Linked DNA regions of Homo sapiens. The protein of the gene in region 1 purifies or fractionates together with the protein of each later gene. This does not show direct contact. Each region holds a gene or a part of one and is shown in the gene's direction. Other genes may lie near its edges. The genes, in order: FAM83G, CREB3L2 and POMGNT2.

Region 1 (2,738 bases):
GATCTGGTCAAAAGCTGGAGGGGTCAGGGTGGAACAGGGACAGTTTGGTGGTTGCGGGGCCCTGACTCCCTGGGCTCCCCCCTGCCTTCATCTCACAAGAAACTTCCTGATGCATCAAACTTGAGTTTTTTCCACCTCATCTTTCCCAGTGTTTGGAAAGGTGTGAGGGTAGAGGGTTGTTTTTTTTTTTAAGGTGTATTTGAATGACTATTTTATTCGTATTTAAAATAATACTATTAAGTAAGCATTTTGCACATGGGCACCCCAGTGTCCCGCTGGCCCAGCAGGAGTCACTGTTGGCCTCTGGACACTCATCGGCCTTGGGCAAGTGGTTCTCAGCCAGGTTTCCGATTGTCGATTCAAGGAAGCAAAAGTAATTTTTCTTGACATTTGAGGACCTTCCTGAGGCTTCTAAAGTGTTCATCCTGATCACCTGAAGGGTGTGATTTTAGCAGAGCTGAGAGTGGCTGGTGGTGATGTGGCCCCACCCCCTGAGGCACAGAGAAGAGGGAGACAGGTCCAGAGAGGGATGGGGCCTCCACCAAGACCATATAGACCATCTGGCGGGCTCAAGCCGGGGCTTTTTCCTCTCCAGTCCAAAACACCTCACTGTTCCTGTCTACCTCGGGGTCAGGGCCCGGCATGGCCAAGCCCTGGCCCATCTGTGTCTGTGTCACTCCCCTCCCTTCCAGACTGGGCCTGGCTGCTGGGATCCCTCTCATGCGGTGGGTCCCAGGGACACTAGAGCCCCTGGTCTGAGAGGGAGAAGCCTGGATGTAGGAAAACCCGTTTCCACCCCAGGCCCTACTCCCTAGCCTTTTCCAAGTGGGACATGGAAGAGGCAGCCTGCTGCCTGGATGCTGGTCTCCCCAGCATCACTGTTCCCATGGAGCTCAGGTCAGGCTCTGTATTCAGACCGAGGGTTTGTGTGAGGCTCAGAGCAAATGAACAAGTGCCATTCAAGGGTTAGAAACTGCTCAGCCACAGGGTCCCAGTGTCTGAGTCTGGAAGAGTCTTTAGAGATTTGTTCACTCTCTGAGGGATCCTCCTGGCTCTGCTTACATACTTCCAGGGACGGTGAGCTCACGCTCTCTCCGGGCAGCCCTGTGAGTTTCCTATCTGTTCCAGACTAGTATCGCCAATCTCTCCCAGCTCTCTTCTTTCCTCCCTGGCCTTTGTCCTGCAGGAGGTAGCATCACCTCTTGGCATTTTGTACATGCTTTTAAACAATTGGAGGAGCTGCCCAGGCAGTTTTATGGCCTCCTGGTTGTGTGCCTTCACACCCGCCTACAGCCCCACCTCACCATCAAGCGCTGAGCCAATGCGGGTGTGGCTGGCCCTGAGTTCCTGAGTCAGCTCCTTGCCAGGGCCAGAGCTGGTAACAGCGGGGCAGCAGGGTGGGTAGCCTCTACCAGCCAGGGCAGTCCCTGAGGGGCCAGCAGGGGGGCTGACTGCCTAGTGGCTCAACCTCCTGAACCCACCCACTCCCAGCGATGCTACCCAGAACCCCAACGGCATGAATCCTGCACAGTGCCGGGCAGTGCCAGACTCCAAAGGGCTCGCTGTGGGGACAGCCCCGCCATGGCCACAGACTCTGTCCTCACCTTTGATTGTCAGGATGACAGCCCCCACCACCATGATGAGCGTCTGCAGGGCGTCCGTGTAGATTACAGCAGCCAGGCCCCCTGCCAGTGGAAGCAAGGTTGCTGGAGGGGGCCCTGGCCCCAGGGAGGAGGGACACGGGGAGGAACTTCTGGGGCTCCTGCTGGGGCCACTTCCTGGGCTGCTCCCTCGGGCCTGTAGGGGGAGGTGGCCTTCTGACCCCTTTACACGTCCCCTGGGTGGACCTCCCTGCTGCAGGCACCATACCTGCGATGGTGTACAGGGCTGTGATGCCGAGCGTGAGGATGGTGGAGAGGTAGAAGTTCCAGCCCAGGCAGATGTGCACAAACAGAGCCCCCGCGTACAGGTCCAGCTGCGGAGGGAGAGAGCCTTGTGTGGGACTGTTATTCCCAGGGCTCCAGCAAGCCACTCCCTGGGTGACCTCGGGCAAGGCCCTCTCTGGGCCTCGGTGGCCTGTGGATAAGGAGGGGAGACCCCCACTCGCCTGCCTGCCTGCATCACGGGGCCATTGTGAGGTTGGGGGAAGACCTGGCCGTGGAGCTACAAGCTTGTGCGGATGTCAGGGGACATTACTGTTGCTAATAAAGTCCAAAGTGGCCAATGCCTTTCCCAAAAGCAGTGTTGTTATTGAATCTGGCCCCTTCCCGAGGGGATAAAAGGCAGAGCCCTGTCCCCTCGGTTCCCAGGGGCACCTTGATGAGTTTGTGAGGAGTCTGTGAAGACCAGTAGGCCTCAGGAAAAGTGTGTGCTGGGCGGACCAGTAGGCCTCAGGAAAAGTGTGTGCTGGGCGGACCAGGAAACAGAGGGGCAGCCTTGCTTCCTGCCCCCACCCCCCAGTGGGTTTGGAACTGAAGCCAATAGTGGCTCAGAGGCTGGGTCTCAGGCTGAAGCTGGTCTCCACACTGACTGGACACAGCCCCTGCCCTCCCAGAACCTGTGGCTGCTCCTCCTAAAGGCAGGAGCGCTAGCCTGGAGGCCAACCTCTGCCTGGCATGGGCCTCAAAGACCAGAATCCCACCCTCCACCTGGCAGTAGGGGCCCAGTGAGAGGAAGGGCAGGACCCTGTTCTCTGGGACATGGGCTAGTAACAGGCTTCACCTTGCCCCACCCCTGAG
Region 2 (3,036 bases), on another chromosome or scaffold:
CTGGAGTCTAGCTCACATAAAGAGAGTGTTATATAAAAATCCGACAGCTGAACTAGGTTGCTCTTTTTTGGCAGGGAGTGGGGATGAGATTTGACACCAATATGGGCAAAATTAGATAACCTTTTGGTTAATATAAATGATTTTGATTTGGAGGCCTAATTTGTAGATTGTGAAAGCAGCTTTTAGTTTAACTTATTCACAGACCCCTTATAATTACCATGTTTTTTTTTTTCTTCCTAAATCTCTTGGTTCAGCTTGTGAATCTTACGTGCCCGTAAAGTTGGGATGTTGAATTGGCTCTTCTTTGTTCTGGCAGTGAGTCAAGTGTCCAGCATTTTTTCATAAGTGTTTTTTAAAATTGTTCTCCAGCATTTTATGGCTCCTCCCTCCCATGTCCTCAGACCCAGCAAAAGCGTAGAGGCAGAATTAGAGGCCTCTCCAGGCCAGCTCCTCTGCCCACATGTCATACAAGGTGTGAATTTGAGCACAGTCCAGAAATGGAGACATCCCACCCCCAGTTGAATAATGGCCCATTCATGCCAACCTTGCCAACACGGAGAGGGCAGAGATGCACTAGAAGACCTTCATCCTCCCCTTCCTCTGCCCCAAGTCACTACAGTTGGTTCTATTGAAGCCAGTCTTTAAGAAACCTGGGTTAAAGACACCAGCACTTCTGCTTGCTGGGCTGGCTGGACCTGTGAAGCCATGGGCAGGTAGTGCCCTCTTGAGAGTCATTTTATTTGGCCACCTTCAGGTGAGACTATCCATAGACACATGCTAGGATAGGCCCCGCTGGGAGGGCAGTTACAGGAGAGAGTAGGTGGTGGTGACGTGAGGGCTGTGAAGGATCCAGAGACAAGACTTAGATGTTTCGTTCATTCACTCACTCATTCAGTTACTCCTAAGACTTTTCAGTTTCATAAGGAAGAGTGTTGCCTGAGGCCCTAGGGAATATTGGGGAATAGAAGGGATTGAGGAAACATTAATAATAGTTATTCAAAAGACCCAAATGCTTATACTTCTCTCTCCCTTCTTCTCTCTCTGACACACACACACACACACACACACACACACACACACACGTGCACATTCCTCCCTTACATGCTCATTTGTGCCTTAAATGTGCCTTATAGGTAAATCCAGGATGACTGAGGAATCCCTCGTCACTGGGAGATTTTGTATATATTCTTTTATTATTAGATTGAGTTGGGTGTGGGGAAAAATTTTTTTCTGAAGGCTCAAAAGTGGTTTCCTAAAAGTGAGCCACTATCAGATTTGCACATCAGGAGAAAAGAAATAGGGTTACGTCCATTAGGAAAATCCCAGTTTGCAGGAGTGCAATCACATCAAAAAAACAACCAGCCAGGATTAAAGGTATTATAAATCCTCATAGCGGAACATTTCTCAGGGCAAAGGAACCTGGCTCATTTGAAGATTAATGTTCCATGCCTTTGTGGTCAAAGGGTCAGCACTTAACACAGGAAAAAACTAGGTGTTGTTTTGTTTTGTTATTTTGGACAACATAAAATTCAGGAATGTTTTATTTAGCCTTGGTTTCTAGAAGGAAGGGAAATAATATTTCTTGAGCATTTACTAGGGTGTTGCGTGCTGTGCTAAGTAAATTTTAAGTCTTTCAGTTTTATAGATACGGAAAACAAGGGTGACTCTTTACCACAGGATGAATAAAGAACTAAGTAATATGGGAAATGCAGCAATTTCTGGACTAGCTGAGCCGATTCCTTCCTGTGAGCACACTGTAAGCTTTCAAGTTCTCTGGGCAGGAATTACAGCACCTGTCCCCTGCAATGGCCCTGCTGTGTGATGCTCATCGCTTCCCTTCGTGCTGGAGCAGTCCCCCAGGTGTCCATCTCCTATCTTTTTGTTCCAATCTTCTGTGAGTTCCAGCTAGCAGGCTTTACATCTGGGGAAAGGAAAACCAGGGGTTTTAGCTCTGTTCTCTGCTCCCATCCTTCGCTCACCAGCTGAGTGAGAACATGAACTTTTTGCACCATGTACCCATGGCTTACACTACTTAGAAAATCACCTTTTCAGATAAAACAGTTTATGAGTTCATAGAGAACACCAGCACTCTTTGACAAAACTGTGAGTGACCCTTTTTAAACAATGCTGAGCAGGCCCTGAGCTATAATCAACGGTGAGCTTTAATGTCTATGCTGACAGTTAGGTTTTGCTCTCTTTTGTAACAGGTTACGTAGACCAGCAGTGTTTAAATCTAAATACGTTGTGAGTCTGTTATCTGTCCTATCGCGTTTTTTAAATGACTTTTTATTCTTTATCATAGCTAAGTAAATACCAAAAAAAAAAAAAAGCTTTGTAGGACACTTGTACTTAGTTTGGGAAAAAAAAATAAATTGAAATTGTTATGCTTTTGTATTTCCATTTCTTGCAAATAAATATTTTTTCTTAAATAGTAAGATGTTGCCCAGTCTTTATAATCTTGGTACTAATTTGAAAAGCATGTTGTTTTTTTATGAACATGGGTTTGTGTATGTGTGCCGAACCGTTCTTTCCTGGATATCTACTTGGCCTGAAAGAAGAGCCTCAAACCAGCAATTGGTATGTTATATAGGACTGAATCCAAGCCTTAGTTGGAGGAATATTGAGAATGTAATTGTTTTTTCAGGCAGCCACGGGAAGAAAAACAGTATCCTCTAGAGACTTATGCAGCATGACTGTTATTTTTATTGTCTCCTCTAACTATTCCCTAACTAGATTTCAACTGTCTGTGGATTTGATTTTGCTTTCCCCATCTCTGGTTGCTTGAGAAAGATCCTTTGGACTTGAGCCAGAAAGGAATGATCCTTCTTCCTACGAACAGTTGCAGAGGATGTCTAACAGATTCATGCTCCAGAAATTCTGATGAAATGGTTGATAAAGGTCAGTGCACTCAAGCAGAGTAATCTTCGTTCCATTACAATGTCTGAATCCAAATGTAGCTTTCTTCACTCAGAGAGTGGGGGCTTCGTTTAGTCTCAGACTGACTTGGGATGTGAGAGACTAAGGCCAGGGACTGTG
Region 3 (3,578 bases), on another chromosome or scaffold:
AAAGTCATTACCCAGAGTCCAGGAATGTCAGGCCCCTGCAAGGGATTTTCCTATGGCCTGTCTTTCCTATGGCCTCTCTTTGTTAGCTTTTGCTGCAGCAGTGCTTCATCACAAACAGCCCCAGAATTTCAGGGATGTTTAATCAGCTGTTGCTCAGCCCTGATGTCTATGTGTTGGCTGATCTTGGCTGCGTTTGGCTGATCGCACTGCTGCTCTTGGCTGGGCCCACTCAGTCATGAGGGATCAGCTGAACTAGAACAGGGCATGGCCGGAGCAGTTCTGCTTCATGCGTATCTCGCTCCTCTTGGGGCCAGCAAGTTAGCCTGAATACATTCTTCTTATGGCAGTGTCATAAAGAGGGCAAGGCCAGCCCAAACACTTTCCAAACCTTTGATTATGTTCTGTCTGCTGACATCTCACTGGCCAAAGCAAGTTAAATGGCTAAGCCCAAAGTCGGGTGTGGGGATGCACTTTCCAACATGGAGGCGATGGGGAGGGAGAGAATATTTTAAACAATGGTCTAATCTACCACGCCTACCAATGTGCACAATGGCTGCAAGGATCCAGTGCTGTAGCGGGCACACAGAGCCTAGCTACCGTGCCTGGCACATAGCAGGAGCTTGTAATGATGCCAGGAAGACTGCCAATTCCTTTTTCTTTTCCTTCTCTCCTCCTGCAGGCTTTCACCAGTTCTCAGGATGCCCATAGGGATGGGTGAAGCCTGCCTGGCCTGTGGTGCTTCCCAGTGGCCGTCATCTCATTAGGGCCCCACAGTGGCATTAGGATGCACCTCTCGGCGGTGTTCAACGCCCTCCTGGTGTCGGTGCTGGCAGCGGTCCTGTGGAAGCATGTGCGGCTGCGTGAGCATGCAGCCACACTGGAGGAGGAGCTGGCCCTCAGCCGACAGGCCACAGAGCCAGCCCCAGCACTGAGGATCGACTACCCGAAGGCACTGCAGATCCTGATGGAGGGCGGCACACACATGGTGTGCACGGGCCGCACGCACACAGACCGCATCTGCCGCTTCAAGTGGCTCTGCTACTCCAACGAGGCTGAGGAGTTCATCTTCTTCCATGGCAACACCTCTGTCATGCTGCCCAACCTGGGCTCCCGGCGCTTCCAGCCAGCCCTGCTCGACCTATCCACCGTGGAGGACCACAACACTCAGTACTTCAACTTCGTGGAGCTGCCTGCTGCTGCCCTGCGCTTCATGCCCAAGCCGGTGTTCGTGCCAGACGTGGCCCTCATCGCCAACCGCTTCAACCCCGACAACCTCATGCACGTCTTTCATGACGACCTGCTGCCACTCTTCTACACCCTGCGGCAGTTTCCCGGCCTGGCCCACGAGGCACGGCTCTTCTTCATGGAGGGCTGGGGCGAGGGTGCACACTTCGACCTCTACAAGCTGCTCAGCCCCAAGCAGCCTCTCCTGCGGGCACAGCTGAAGACCCTGGGCCGGCTGCTGTGCTTCTCCCATGCTTTTGTGGGCCTCTCCAAGATCACTACCTGGTACCAGTATGGCTTTGTGCAGCCCCAGGGCCCGAAGGCCAACATCCTCGTCTCAGGCAATGAGATCCGGCAGTTTGCACGGTTCATGACAGAAAAGCTGAACGTGAGCCACACAGGAGTCCCCCTAGGCGAGGAGTACATTCTGGTCTTTAGCCGAACCCAGAACAGACTCATTCTGAATGAGGCAGAGCTGCTGCTGGCACTGGCCCAGGAGTTCCAGATGAAGACAGTGACAGTGTCCCTGGAGGACCACACCTTTGCTGATGTCGTGCGGCTGGTCAGCAATGCCTCCATGCTGGTCAGCATGCATGGGGCCCAGCTGGTCACCACCCTCTTCCTGCCCCGTGGGGCAACTGTGGTAGAGCTCTTCCCATATGCTGTCAATCCCGACCACTACACTCCCTATAAGACGCTGGCCATGCTGCCTGGCATGGACCTCCAGTATGTAGCCTGGCGGAACATGATGCCAGAGAACACAGTCACACACCCTGAGCGGCCCTGGGATCAGGGGGGCATCACCCATCTGGACCGGGCTGAGCAAGCCCGTATCCTGCAAAGCCGTGAGGTCCCACGGCATCTCTGTTGCCGGAACCCCGAGTGGCTCTTCCGAATCTACCAGGACACCAAGGTGGACATCCCGTCCCTCATTCAAACCATACGGCGCGTGGTGAAGGGCCGGCCAGGACCACGGAAGCAGAAGTGGACAGTCGGCCTATATCCAGGCAAGGTGCGGGAGGCACGGTGCCAGGCGTCAGTGCATGGCGCCTCCGAGGCCCGCCTCACTGTCTCCTGGCAGATCCCATGGAACCTTAAATACCTGAAGGTGAGGGAGGTGAAGTACGAGGTGTGGCTGCAGGAGCAGGGGGAGAACACCTACGTGCCTTACATCCTGGCTCTGCAGAACCACACCTTCACTGAGAACATCAAGCCCTTCACCACCTACCTGGTGTGGGTCCGCTGCATCTTCAACAAGATCCTCCTGGGACCCTTTGCAGATGTGCTGGTGTGCAACACGTAGCGAGCAGGCCACAGCCTGGCCTCGGGAAGGTGGCTCCTGCAGTTCAGCGTCCCTGGGCCCATTAATCCCACTGTGGAGACTTCTGGGAACTATTTATTGAGCAGGCCTGTGCCTCCACATCATCTTGTTGTCTCTGGGGTGTGGTGTCACAGCACTCCTCTTTGCCCTAGAGATAAGGGACCTGACTTCCCCTTCTCCCATCCTGAACATTTGTACCCCTGGAGAAGTTCCTTAGCAGGGAGGAGGAAGAGGAGAGGAGGAAGCAAAGAATCACAAGGAACCTCTGGCTAGGTGATCCTGATGTTTCCTACTGAGTTTTTCTGGTATCCAGATTTCTGGAAACCGAGTAATCATGTACTGTTTGATTGGGTGGTTCATCTGCTTCCATCCCAGTGAAATTTACCTGTAGCCCAGTGAAGGGTGTGTTTGGAACATTCATTAAATGATTCTAAGCATCTTGGTCAAGTCTTCTTATTGGATGGGAGGAAGGGGAGCTGGTCGTCAAAACCCAGGTGCCCTTTAATCTTGATTGTTAGCTAGGGAGACGTGGCAATGGGAAAGCGCCCAGGATGGCAAAGTGAGCAAGCTGGTTGGATTTCATCTTGACTAGCTGGACTAATATCACAGTTCCACCTACATGGGATAAAAGCCTAGAAGTAGGTAGGAGAGGGCTGAGGGGAGGAAGAGCTGTATCCACCATGGGTTTTTTTTTGGGCTCAACTAGACATTAAGACTCGCAAGACCTGGACAGATCATACCTGGCATCAGAGTTTCTTAGAAGGATGGAGAGAGATGCTCAGCATGCCAGCAGGGCCATGTCAGCAGTTCCCTTCCACAGGAGCAGTCCTTACATCAGTACTCCTGAGGGCCACCTTGATTCAGAAGCCCATGCCCCATAGGAGTCAATGTGTTTTCAACAACCCACAATCAGAGTTCCCAGGGTCCCTCAAGGGACATGCCCAGTTATGAGTTTCTGCACTTAGGGAAGCCTAAGGCCATGGTTTCTTACCAGATGGTATAGCTTATTCTTTGTCCTTCCAGCCCAGGTGTA

Evidence for each region.
Region 2: the proteins of FAM83G (region 1) and CREB3L2 purify together in Homo sapiens (co-immunoprecipitation; one large-scale study listed by IntAct). This does not show direct contact.
Region 3: the proteins of FAM83G (region 1) and POMGNT2 purify together in Homo sapiens (co-immunoprecipitation; one large-scale study listed by IntAct). This does not show direct contact.

What each region holds. Positions count from the first base shown.
Region 1 is NC_000017.11:18,968,289-18,971,026, reverse strand, and holds the end of FAM83G (protein FAM83G), read left to right. Parts: coding exon of another isoform or gene 1-14; 3' UTR 15-1,604; coding exon of another isoform or gene 1,605-1,685; 3' UTR 1,686-1,869; coding exon of another isoform or gene 1,870-1,975; 3' UTR 1,976-2,238; downstream 2,239-2,738. Other genes in the region: sodium/mannose cotransporter SLC5A10, read right to left, coding at 1-14, 1,605-1,685, 1,870-1,975. UniProt on the Homo sapiens protein: Substrate for type I BMP receptor kinase involved in regulation of some target genes of the BMP signaling pathway. Also regulates the expression of several non-BMP target genes, suggesting a role in other signaling pathways.
Region 2 is NC_000007.14:137,874,378-137,877,413, reverse strand, and holds the end of CREB3L2 (cyclic AMP-responsive element-binding protein 3-like protein 2), read left to right. Parts: 3' UTR 1-2,435; downstream 2,436-3,036. UniProt on the Homo sapiens protein: Transcription factor involved in unfolded protein response (UPR).
Region 3 is NC_000003.12:43,078,638-43,082,215, reverse strand, and holds the end of POMGNT2 (protein O-linked-mannose beta-1,4-N-acetylglucosaminyltransferase 2), read left to right. Parts: intron 1-679; 5' UTR 680-784; coding exon 785-2,527; 3' UTR 2,528-2,982; downstream 2,983-3,578. UniProt on the Homo sapiens protein: O-linked mannose beta-1,4-N-acetylglucosaminyltransferase that transfers UDP-N-acetyl-D-glucosamine to the 4-position of the mannose to generate N-acetyl-D-glucosamine-beta-1,4-O-D-mannosylprotein.